Regions from separate parts of the Homo sapiens genome. Here region 1 is linked to region 2. Evidence: fine-mapped expression QTL. A gene starts in region 2. The other region holds a variant in brackets. All regions are shown on one strand. Distances are between the middles of the regions.

What was found. PIP is the estimated chance that this variant, and not a neighbour inherited with it, causes the effect.
Region 1: its variant is the best candidate, but not a certain one, in a credible set for the expression of LPAR4 in tibial artery (GTEx, PIP 0.60).

The regions. Positions count from the first base shown.
Region 1 is chrX:78,640,943-78,646,481 of GRCh38, forward strand. No RefSeq gene overlaps it. Among named protein-coding and RNA genes, the nearest start is that of RTL3, 16 kb to the right of the region's middle. The variant A/C (reference allele first, on the strand shown) is at 2,802.
Region 2 is chrX:78,744,949-78,749,948 of GRCh38, forward strand. It overlaps LPAR4 (lysophosphatidic acid receptor 4), which reads left to right and starts at 2,772. Exons shown (of 5, transcript NM_001278000.3): 1 at 2,772-3,086.

The DNA.
Region 1 (5,539 bases), 100 kb before region 2:
TATGCCAGGACTATACTGTCTTGACATCTGAAATCATGAATTGTAAGTTCTTCAAATTTGTTCTTCTTTTTCAAAATGATTTTGGCTCTTCTGGCTCCCTTGCATTTCCATATACATTTTAGAATAAGTTTGTTAATTTCTGCAAAGAAGACATCTGGGATCCTTTTATTATATAAGACTGTGTTGAACTTATCGATCAATTTGGAGAATATTTTCATCTTAACAATATTAAGTGCTGTGATCTATGTATGTTGTATGTCTTTTTATTTATTTCAGCATTTTAAAATATCTTTCAACCATGGTTTGTAGTTTTCAGCATACAGATCTTGCATTTATTTCATTAAATTTATTCCTAGATATTTTTCCTGCTATTACATATATAAGAACATTTTCTTAATTTTAGAAATATTTATTGCCAGTGTGTAAAATTATAGCTGATTTTTTATATTGACTATGTATCCTCCAACCTTGTTGAGCTCATTTATTAATTCTAATACATTTATTGCATTCCATAGGATTTTCTATATACAAAAGTTCATGTCATCTAGAGCCAGTTTTACTTCTTCCTTTCTAATATTGATGCTTTTATTTTATTTTCTTATCTCATTTCTCTTTCTCAAACCTCCACTACGATGTTGAATAGAAGTGATGAGAGAAAATATTGTTGTTTGCTGCCTGTTCTTAGAGGGAAATCATTTAGTTTTTCACCATTAAGTGTGATGATTACTGTGGAATTTTTATAGATGCCTTTTATAATCTTGATGACGTTCCCTTGTAGTTTTTAGTATGTTGGCTGTTTTATCATTAAAAGTTGCTGGATTTTGTCAAATACTAATTCTTTATCTACTGAGAGAACTATGCAGTGTTTGTTCTTTATTCTATTAGTATAATGTATCATGTTTATTGATTTTCAGCTGTTGAAATGGTCCTGCCTTCCTGGGATAAGTCTCACTAAATTGTGTAGCATAATCCTTTTTATATGTTGCTGGATTAGGGTTACTAGTATTTTATTGAAAATTTTTGCATCTATATTGATAAGGGATATTAGTCTATAGTTTTCTTTTTATATGTTCATGTGGTTTGGATATGAGTTTAAGACTGTCATAAAATGAGTTGAACAGTGCTGCCTTTTCTCTAACTTTTTAAAAGACTTTTTGTAGAATGGCCTTAATTCTTCTTTAAATGTTTGGGTAGAATTCAGCAGTGGAGTCATCTGGTACTTGGCTTTCCTTTGTGGTAAGTTTTAAAATTCACAATTCAACCTCTCTGCTTATTATAGTAGAAATCTATTCAGATTTTTAATATCTTCTTGAATCTGTTCCAGTAGTTTATGTCTTTCTAGGAATTTGTGCTTTTCATCTAGGTTATCTAATCATTGGCATGCAATTTTTCATTCTCCTACAATACTTTTTATTGCTATAAAGTCAATAGTAATGCCCCCTTTCATTCCAGATTTTAATTATTTGAGTGTTCTTTTTTCTTGTTCAGTCTATTTAAAAGATCACTAATTTGATCTTTTCAAATAACCAAATTTTGGATTTATTAATTTTCTCTATTGTTTTTCTGTTCTGTGTTAATTAATTTCTGCTCTAATTGTTGTGTCCTTCCTTCTGCCTGGTAGAGTTTAGTTTGTATTAAAATAATACAAGCTTTTAAAAATAATATAAGCTATCCCAGCCATAAATTTCTCTCTAATGACTATTTTTGTTGCATCTCTTAAGTTTTGTTACGATATGTATTACATTTTCTTCACCTGAAAGAGTTTTTTAATTTCCCTCTTGATTTCTTCTTGATGCATTGATTATTTAGGAGAATGTTGTTTAATTTCCACATGTTTATGAAATTTCCTAATATTCTTCTCTTATTGATTTCTAATTTCATTTTATTATGGCCAGAAAACACATGAATTATGATTTCAATATTTTTAAATTTATTGTTTCATATTTTATGATGTAGCATATGGTTTATTCTGGAGAATGTTCTATGTTTGCTTGAAGAATGTGTATTCTATTGTTGTTGGATGTAGTATAGTTGCCTTTTATGTCTAATTGGCAGTTCATGTTGTGTGGCATGTCTTTAAATTGCATTTTTTGACAATGCTTTTTATTTCTCTTAAAAAACTAATAAATCAGTTTATAAAACCTTTTAAGAAAGGCAGAAGAGGAAACAAATGGCGGGTAGGAGGCAGGACTAACTTGTAGCTCCCACTCAGACAAATCCAGTAGCATGTGGAGACTCACATTGTGAACTTTGCTCCAAGAACTACTGCAGGAAATACCAGGAAAGCTGAGGGAATCCACAGACCCTTTGAAGGAGGTGGATTGCTGCTGCAGGCTCTGTGGGACAGCTGAGGAACTGTGAGTCTGCTTGCTTTCTCAGCTGGAAGGCTTGTAGCCTGGAGCAAGTTCTCAGCCCTGCTCACCAGCAGCCTGGAAATAAACTCAGTTTACTGGTGGGGGTGGGCATGGTGGGAGTGAGAGTGGCCTTTCAGACTGTGGGCTGCATGGGAGCTGGATGAGGCCTGTGGCTGCTAGCTTTCCCCCACTTCCCTGGTGACCTGTGTGACACAGCAGAGGCAGCCATAGTCCCCCTGGGAACACAACTCCATTAGCCTGGGAGCCACACTCCCATCCCCCACAGCAGCCACAGCAAGCCCCACCCAGGGAGAATCTGAGCTCAGACATGCCTAACCTTCCCATACCTGATTGTCTTACTCTTCCTACCTGGTAGCTGAAGACAAAGGACATAATCTTTTGGAAGCTCTATGGCCTGCCCACCACCTGGTACCTATACTACCATAG[A/C]TCATGCACTCTTGAAAGTGCCACATCCTGGCTAGAGGCCAACCAATATAAAACCAGTGCACTTAATAAAAATACAACCAAAGACCCTCACAGAGTCACTTCACTCCCTTGCTACCTCCACTGGAGCGGGTGTTGGTATCCATGGCTGAAAGACCTGAAGACAGATCACATCTCAGGACCCTTTAAAGACACTCCCCAGTACCAGCCCAGAACCTGGTAGCCCCACTGGGTGCCTAGATCAAGAAAAGAATAATAATCACTACAGTGTGGCTCTTAGGAAGCCACACTGTAGTGAGGAGAGAGCCACATCAAGGGAAAAGAGGAGAGAACCACATCAAGGGAGCACCCTGTGGGACAAAATAACCTGAACATCAGCCCTTGAGCACTAGATCTTTCCTTTGACATAGTCTACCCAAATGAGAAGGAAACAGAAAAAGATTTCTGGTAATTGTGGTAATGTGATGACAAAATAAGGTTCTTTAACACCCTCAAAAAAATCACACTAGCTTACCAGCAATTGATCGAAACTAAGACGAAATCCCTGAATTGCCAGAAAAGGAGTTCAGAAGGTCAATTATGCTAATCAAGGAGGCACCAGAGAAAGGTAAAGTTCAATTGAAAGAAATAAAAAAAGGATACAGGATATGAATGGAGAAATCTCCAGTGAAATAGATAAATAAAAAACAATTACAACTTCTCGAAATGAAGGACACACTTAGAGAAATGCAAAATGCACTGGAAGGTCTGAACAATAGAATTGAACAAGTAGAAGAAAGAACTTCAGAGCTCAAAAACAAGGCTTTTGAATTAACCCAATCCAACAAAGACAAAGAAAAAAGAATAAAAAATAAGTAAACAAAGCCTCCAAGAAGTTTGGGATTATGTTAAATGATCAAACCTGAGAATAATTGGTGTTCCCATGGAAGAAGAGAAATCTAAAAGTTTGGAAAACATATTTAAGGGAGTAATCAAGGAAAATTTCCCGAGCCTTGCTAGATATCTAGACATTCAAATATAAGAAGCTCAAAGAACGCCTGGAAAGTTTATCCCATAAAAGATCATCTCCTAGGCACATAGTCATCAGATTATCTAAAGCGAAGACAAAGAAAAGCGTCCTAAGAGCTGTGAGGCAAAAGTATCAAATAACCTATAAAAGAACACCTATTAGTTTATCAGTAGATTGCTCAGCACAAACCCTACAAGCAAGAAGGGATTTGGGTCCTACCTTTTGCCTCCTTAAAGAAAACAATAATCAGCCAATAATTTTGTATCCAGTGAAATAAAGCTTCATAAATGAAGGAAAGATAGTCTTTTTCAGAGAAATAAGTCCTGAGAGGATTTGCCACTTCCAAGCCAGTTCTACAAGAACTCCTAAAAGGAGCTCTAAAACTTGAAAAAAAATCCTCAAAATACACCAAAACAGAATCTTTTTAAAGCATAAATCTCACAGGACCTATAACACCACACACACACACACACAAAAAAAGGTACTCAGATAACAACTAGCACAATGAATAGAATAGTACCTCACATTTCAATACTAACATTGAATGTAAATGAACTAAATGCCCTACTTAAAAGATGCAGAATGGCATAATGGATAAGAATTCAGCAAATAAGTATCTGCTGTCTTCCTCACCTGACACATAAGGACTCATACAAACCTATATTAAGGGAGTGGAAAAAGATATTCTGTGAAAATGGACACCAAAAGCAAGCAGGAATAGCTATTCTTACATCAGACCAAAGAAACTTTAAAGCAACAGCAGTAATAAAAAACAAACAGGGATACTATATAATGATAAAAAGACTAGTCCAAGAGAAAAAATCACAATCGTGTGTGTGTGTGTGTGTGTGTGTGTGTGTGTGTGTGTATATATATGCACCTAACACTAGAACTCATAAATTTATCAAACAATTACTACTACACCTAAGAAATGAGATAGCAACACAATAATAATGGGGGGCTTCAATACTCCCCTGACAGCATTGGACAGGTCATCAAGACAGAAAGTCAACAAACAAACAATAGACTTAAATTATACCCTAGAACAAATGGACTCAAAAATATTTACAGAACATTCTACCCAACAACTGCAGAATATACATTCTATTCATTAACACATTGACCATTCTTCAAGATTGACCATATAATAGGTTATAAAACAAGTCTCAATAAATATAAGAAAATCAAAATTATGTCAAGTACTCTCTCAGATCACAATTGAATAAAATTGGAAATCAACTTCAAAAGTAACTCTCAAAATCATGCAAATACATGGAACTTAAATAATCTGCTCCTCAATGATTGTTGGGTCAACAATGAAATCAAGATGGAAATTAAAAAATTATTTGAACTGAACCATAATAGTGAAAAAGCTATTAAAACCTCTGGGATACAGCAAGGGCAGTGCTAAGAAGAAAGTTCATAGCATTAAATGTCTACATCAAAAAGTCGGAAAGAGCCCAAATAGACAATCTAAGGTCACACCTCAAGGAACTAGAGAAACAAGAACAAACAAACCCAAACCCAGCCAAAGAAAAGAAATAACAAAGATCAGAGCAGAACTAAATGAAATTGAACAAAAAAAAATACAAAAGATAAATGAAACAAAAGTTAGTTCTTTGAAAAGATAAAATTGAGACACCATTAGAGAGATTAACCAAGAAAAAAAGAGAGGATCCGAATAAACTCAATTAGAAATGAAACAGGTGATATTACAACCAATACCACAGAA
Region 2 (5,000 bases):
TTACAAATGTTAGAGCAAGCAAAACTATAAGGTTTGCAGCAATAAGTGAGTTAAAGGAAAAAGGGGATGGTAGTGGATAAGCCTTAGTACTTTCTTGTTAATGGGATTTTTTTTTCTTTATTTGTGTGTATTCTTTGGCCTAAAATAATATCTTGGTGTAAATTTGTGCAAAAATGGGCAAAATGATGCATGTTTTCAGCTGATAAGTAAAAAAAGTCTAGTTGTTGCTTTGGTTGGGTAAAACAGAAGGTCAGGGAGAATAATTTTTTGCAAACACCACTATCCTTTTTGGATTAAGCAGATATTAATCCTATCCTCTTGGAGTTTACAGTTGGGAGAAATCAATGTTAATAAAATTGTCACACAAACAAATTACACAACGGTATGTAAAATTATACCAGTAAAAAATGCAATACATGAAAGGTCCATGATGCTATAGGACATATAGTATGTGGATATGACCTAAATGAGGGGTTAAGGAAGGATTCCCTGAAGGCGTGATTATTGGGATAGGATTTGAAGGGAGAATAAGGATTAAACTGGTGAAAGGAAGATTAGAGAGGGAGGAGAGTGTTCCAGGCAGAGGAAATAGCACTTAGAAATATCCATGGCATGAGTGATCCTATCTCATTCTAGGGGCTGGAAGAGGATCAATGAGGCTGAAACTCAGAAGGGAGGAAGACTGATGCTAAAAGAGCACGTGACCCAGTGACATTGTAAAAGATCTGCTACATTGGTGAGATTAATCAGCAAAGTACTTGTGTCCTTGAGGGAGAAATGAAGACAGAAGAATTGGAAAACTTATGGCTATTAATTTGAAGAGGAGAAAGGTAGTGAGCTGATCATATAGACAGACAGTGATCATGACTATAGGTTAACCCTTCAATCACTATAGTGCATTGAGTTGCTACAGTAAAGTACTCCTCTCAAAAGCTTTTCTCCTTACCCTTATTTTCCCTTTACAAACTGGTCTCCTTCTCACCTACTCTCACTTTACATCTTCTGCATTTGATCACTTTGCTCTGCCCACCTAGAAATATATCCCCTTCCATTCTTGGTTTATTTAATACTGAATCATCCACCAAAATGTGGCACAAATCCCACTTCTTCTAAGAAACCCTCCTGGCCCTATCCATGGGACTTCATCTCCATCCTCTGATCTATTACAGAACTCAATCTCCATATAACTGCCTTGGTATTTTTTTTTTCAAAATTTACCTTTGGTATCCCACTTTTTTCATGTGTCTTTGTGTCCCTACCTAGACTCTGGCATACTGCAGGGTAGAGACTGTATCTTTCGCCTGTGGACTGACAAATGCACCGAGTACTGGTCTAGGATGAGAGTTGGTAAAAGACCATTTATAAAGACACAGACAATGTCAGCAACTGACAGAAATAGACATATTTGAGATAAGCAGAGAGGGGAATAAAAAGAACAGAGATGGGCGGTGGGATGGAGAAGAGGAAGCAACAGAGAAAGTGTTTTTTTAGAGCCAGTTACAAGTAATAAGGCTAGTGTCAGCTTCACACTAACTTGTTTACTGGCCTCCACTGATAGTGAGAAGAGCCACAATAGAGCTGAACAAATAGGGAGAATAAACAAGCTTGAAACATGCCCTACTTGGGAGGCAGCTTAATTACACAAACTGAAGTTCTGAAGCAAATAGAGGATCCTCCAAGACTCCAGGGGCTCTGCTCTGCCAAGAGAAAGAAAGCACCTTATCCCTGGGCAGAGAATTTCATTCCAGAGGAGGGGGAGGGGCTGCTGTTGGTGGCTTTTGCAGTGGGTGGAGATAGAGTAGAGAAGGCTTGCAGGGGTGGGCTGGCAGAGGGGAAGGGCCAACAATGAAGTTACAGATGGATGAGTGGGTTTCTGCCACAAAATCAGATCAAGGAGAGGGAGGTGAAGAGGAAAATATAGGGAGGAAAAAAAAAAAGAATTGTGAGTGACCAAGGCAGTAAACCTGTAGATAATTAGAAAAGAAAATCTTGCCATGGGGGAGGTGGGCGGAGGTATACAGTTGCAGATAACTCTCTATTGTAAATAGATTGCATCTGTGCTATTTATTTTGTATTTTAGCAAATCTCTGAAATTTTCATGGTAATTAGACTTACTGCGAGGCAGTTACTTGAGAAGTGTAGACCCTCCTTTTGCTACAGAACACTCCCTAGTCCTTGGAAGGTGGGTGTCAGAGCTCTGGGACCCTAGTACATCTCTATCTGAGGGCACTTATCTGGCTTAAGTGAGTGTAGTATTAAAATTTACTTTATATTTTTGTGATGGTGGGAGATTGAATTTTGCACAGTGTGATAGGAATATTTTTATGGTACCTTTCATTTTTGCCTTTTCCTTGCCCCCTACTTATTATTATCAATATTGTTGTAATTATTTTAAACAAGTAGGAGCGAACATGGTATGCATAATTGAAACACTCCTCCTTGTTTGAAATGTTGTCTCCTCCTCTGCAGTCCTGCGGCAAAGACAGGCACACAGGCTTTCTCTGTGGATTAATTGGTCAGGAAAGACACTTTTTATATTGTCAAGTGGCACTTAAGCCATTAATTCTTGACTGTGAAACTGCTTTTCCTGGGCAATGCTCTTTAAGGAAAAACTTATTCAGTCCAGTGACTGGTGACTAAGGGAACGATGGAGCACAGGGAATTGGGCGGGATCTAGACTCCTAATAATGCCTCCTTAGCCAATGAAAAGCATTTCCTATTGAGACCCCCAAGAGTTCCCCTGGCCGTCGGCTCCAGCTCGGACTTCAGGCCTTTTTGTGTCCTGTTTGCTAAAGGCATGCGGGCTACAGCATTCAAGAGAGGGAGTCGTTAACAAAGGGAAAGAGATAAATGTAAATAAGCTCACATTTACAGAATGAGCGGTTTGCAGTAAAAAGCTGCGGCAGCCCAGAGTCTGCTACTTTAGGCTGGGCTAACCTTTCCCTGTAAAAAAAAAAAAAAAAAAAAAAAAAAAAAAATGGATAAAAATATGCACTTCCAAAGGGCGAGTTGCCCATTTACATGTTTATTAGCTAATTATCTACAGGCATCAGCACATTCTCTCATCTAGCACACTCTTTCTTGGGGTAAGTTTCTCTTTTAAAAAGATTTGATTTTGGCGTTTGGGGGTGGGGGATAGCATAACAAACTACAGTGGAAACACTGATGCTTTGAGAGTGTAAGGAAAGAAGTTAGACTTCAACTCTGAAGTACTGAACAAGGATCTTCGTGATGAATGGTAAAAAACGAGAATTTCCATTGTTTTGGCAATAATATTGTTTCCGTGGAAGACATACAGGATTTTCAGGCTGCTGTTTCATGTAAACACAGTTGTTCTAAAGAGCTAATTTAAAATCACAGTGTAGAACAATTTAGAAAGTATGTCGACTAGCTTTGTATTTCTTTGGTTTACAGTTTATTGTGCGCTAACGTGGCTTGTATTATGATGAGGTTTCTTCTAGTAAAACTATACATGACATGTCTTTGATGCTTAATTGATTTATGGAGAATGTGACATTTGCTATATTGAATAATTCATGAACTTGCCCATAAAGGAAGAATCATGTTTGAATGAAAAACTCTGTCATAAACTGAATTTGCAATTATATGTGAAATTAATTGCTGTTTGCCATACAAATGCATCAATGTGTCATCTTTAAACTCTCTTCTTGTAAATTTTAAATATTTTCAGTAAAAAGGTCTTATTGAGTTGCTAAATACAGTATTTCAGTTACCTTTTAAAAGGAAATTCAGCAATGTAATTTATCATTATTTCAGTGTGGAAAAGACCAGACAAATTCAAAGGTTAGAATATTTCAGAGCTTGGTGGGGTTATTCACTTTGCTACCTTACAAAATTATACCATCTTTCTTTATCTTGACTAACATAAAGACAATAATAATAACCTGAGATCCAGATTACCCAATGGCTTTGCAACACGTTTATTTTTCAGAACAAAATTCCCAACATCATATCCCATCAACATAGATTATAAAACCTTTTGCCTTGTCACAGATGAAAAGTTGCACTCTTGCCAAGAAGGATGAGTTCACCTGATAAACTTGATGGCATCTACATTCTAAAGTCTCTCCTGCCAATCAGAGATGGGAATGAAAGCCTTATTGGAACAATCAGGCCAGTCTTTCAGAATGTGTGCTCTCTGCAAGTTAAAGGGAGAACCAGGAAGATGCCTCACAGAAACATTCAGGCCAAGCTTAGCTAAAGCTTGATCTATTCAATTGCCTTTTGGGAAAATGCAGTGAGAATTGTTGCCCTTGCTGTGGTTTGTTCAGCGCCTAATTGTGTAGCTACCTTTTGTCTGTGTATATGGTCATCACATATAGTCTGCCCTTGGCCTTCTTGTTGGGGGAAGAACAAAACCTGTAATGTGTTTGCGAATATTAGTACTGAAAATTGGGAGCCCAATAAAAGGTTACCTACCACTGGGAATCCACCTTTACTTTAAGCGGATAAATAATCAGTTATCAGAACAATGTAACGGGTAAATGATCTAATGATTCTACATGGTTATGTCCTGAAATATGCCGATAACCTCATATTCTGAGGGGTGAAGTGACCAGGAAACAGGTGGGAAGGGTTGAGGGTTGAGACCTAAACAATTAGAGGTGATATGCCTGCTGAAATGAGCACAAGGACAGAGGATGAGGAAAATAAGGGAATTTGGAAGACTTTAGGATATTAGTGGCATCTTTCTCTGTGATTCTTAGCTTCCGGTATTAATTAATACTATTTATTTCTAATATTCAAATAAATCTAGCAATCATTTCATTAAGTCTAATAAAAATTAATGACCCTCCTTGCTTGCAGACTTTGAGGAAATAAAAAATGTTTTACAGTGGCCAATGTAAGCAGGTGAAAATAAATGATGGAAAAGAACAGCCAGTAAGGCCACCAGCATGGCACTCATTGAAGGTTGCTTTTCTGTCAGTCAAGACTGAAGATTAAAGGAGAAGAGAAACTGAGACTCAGAAATGGACTGT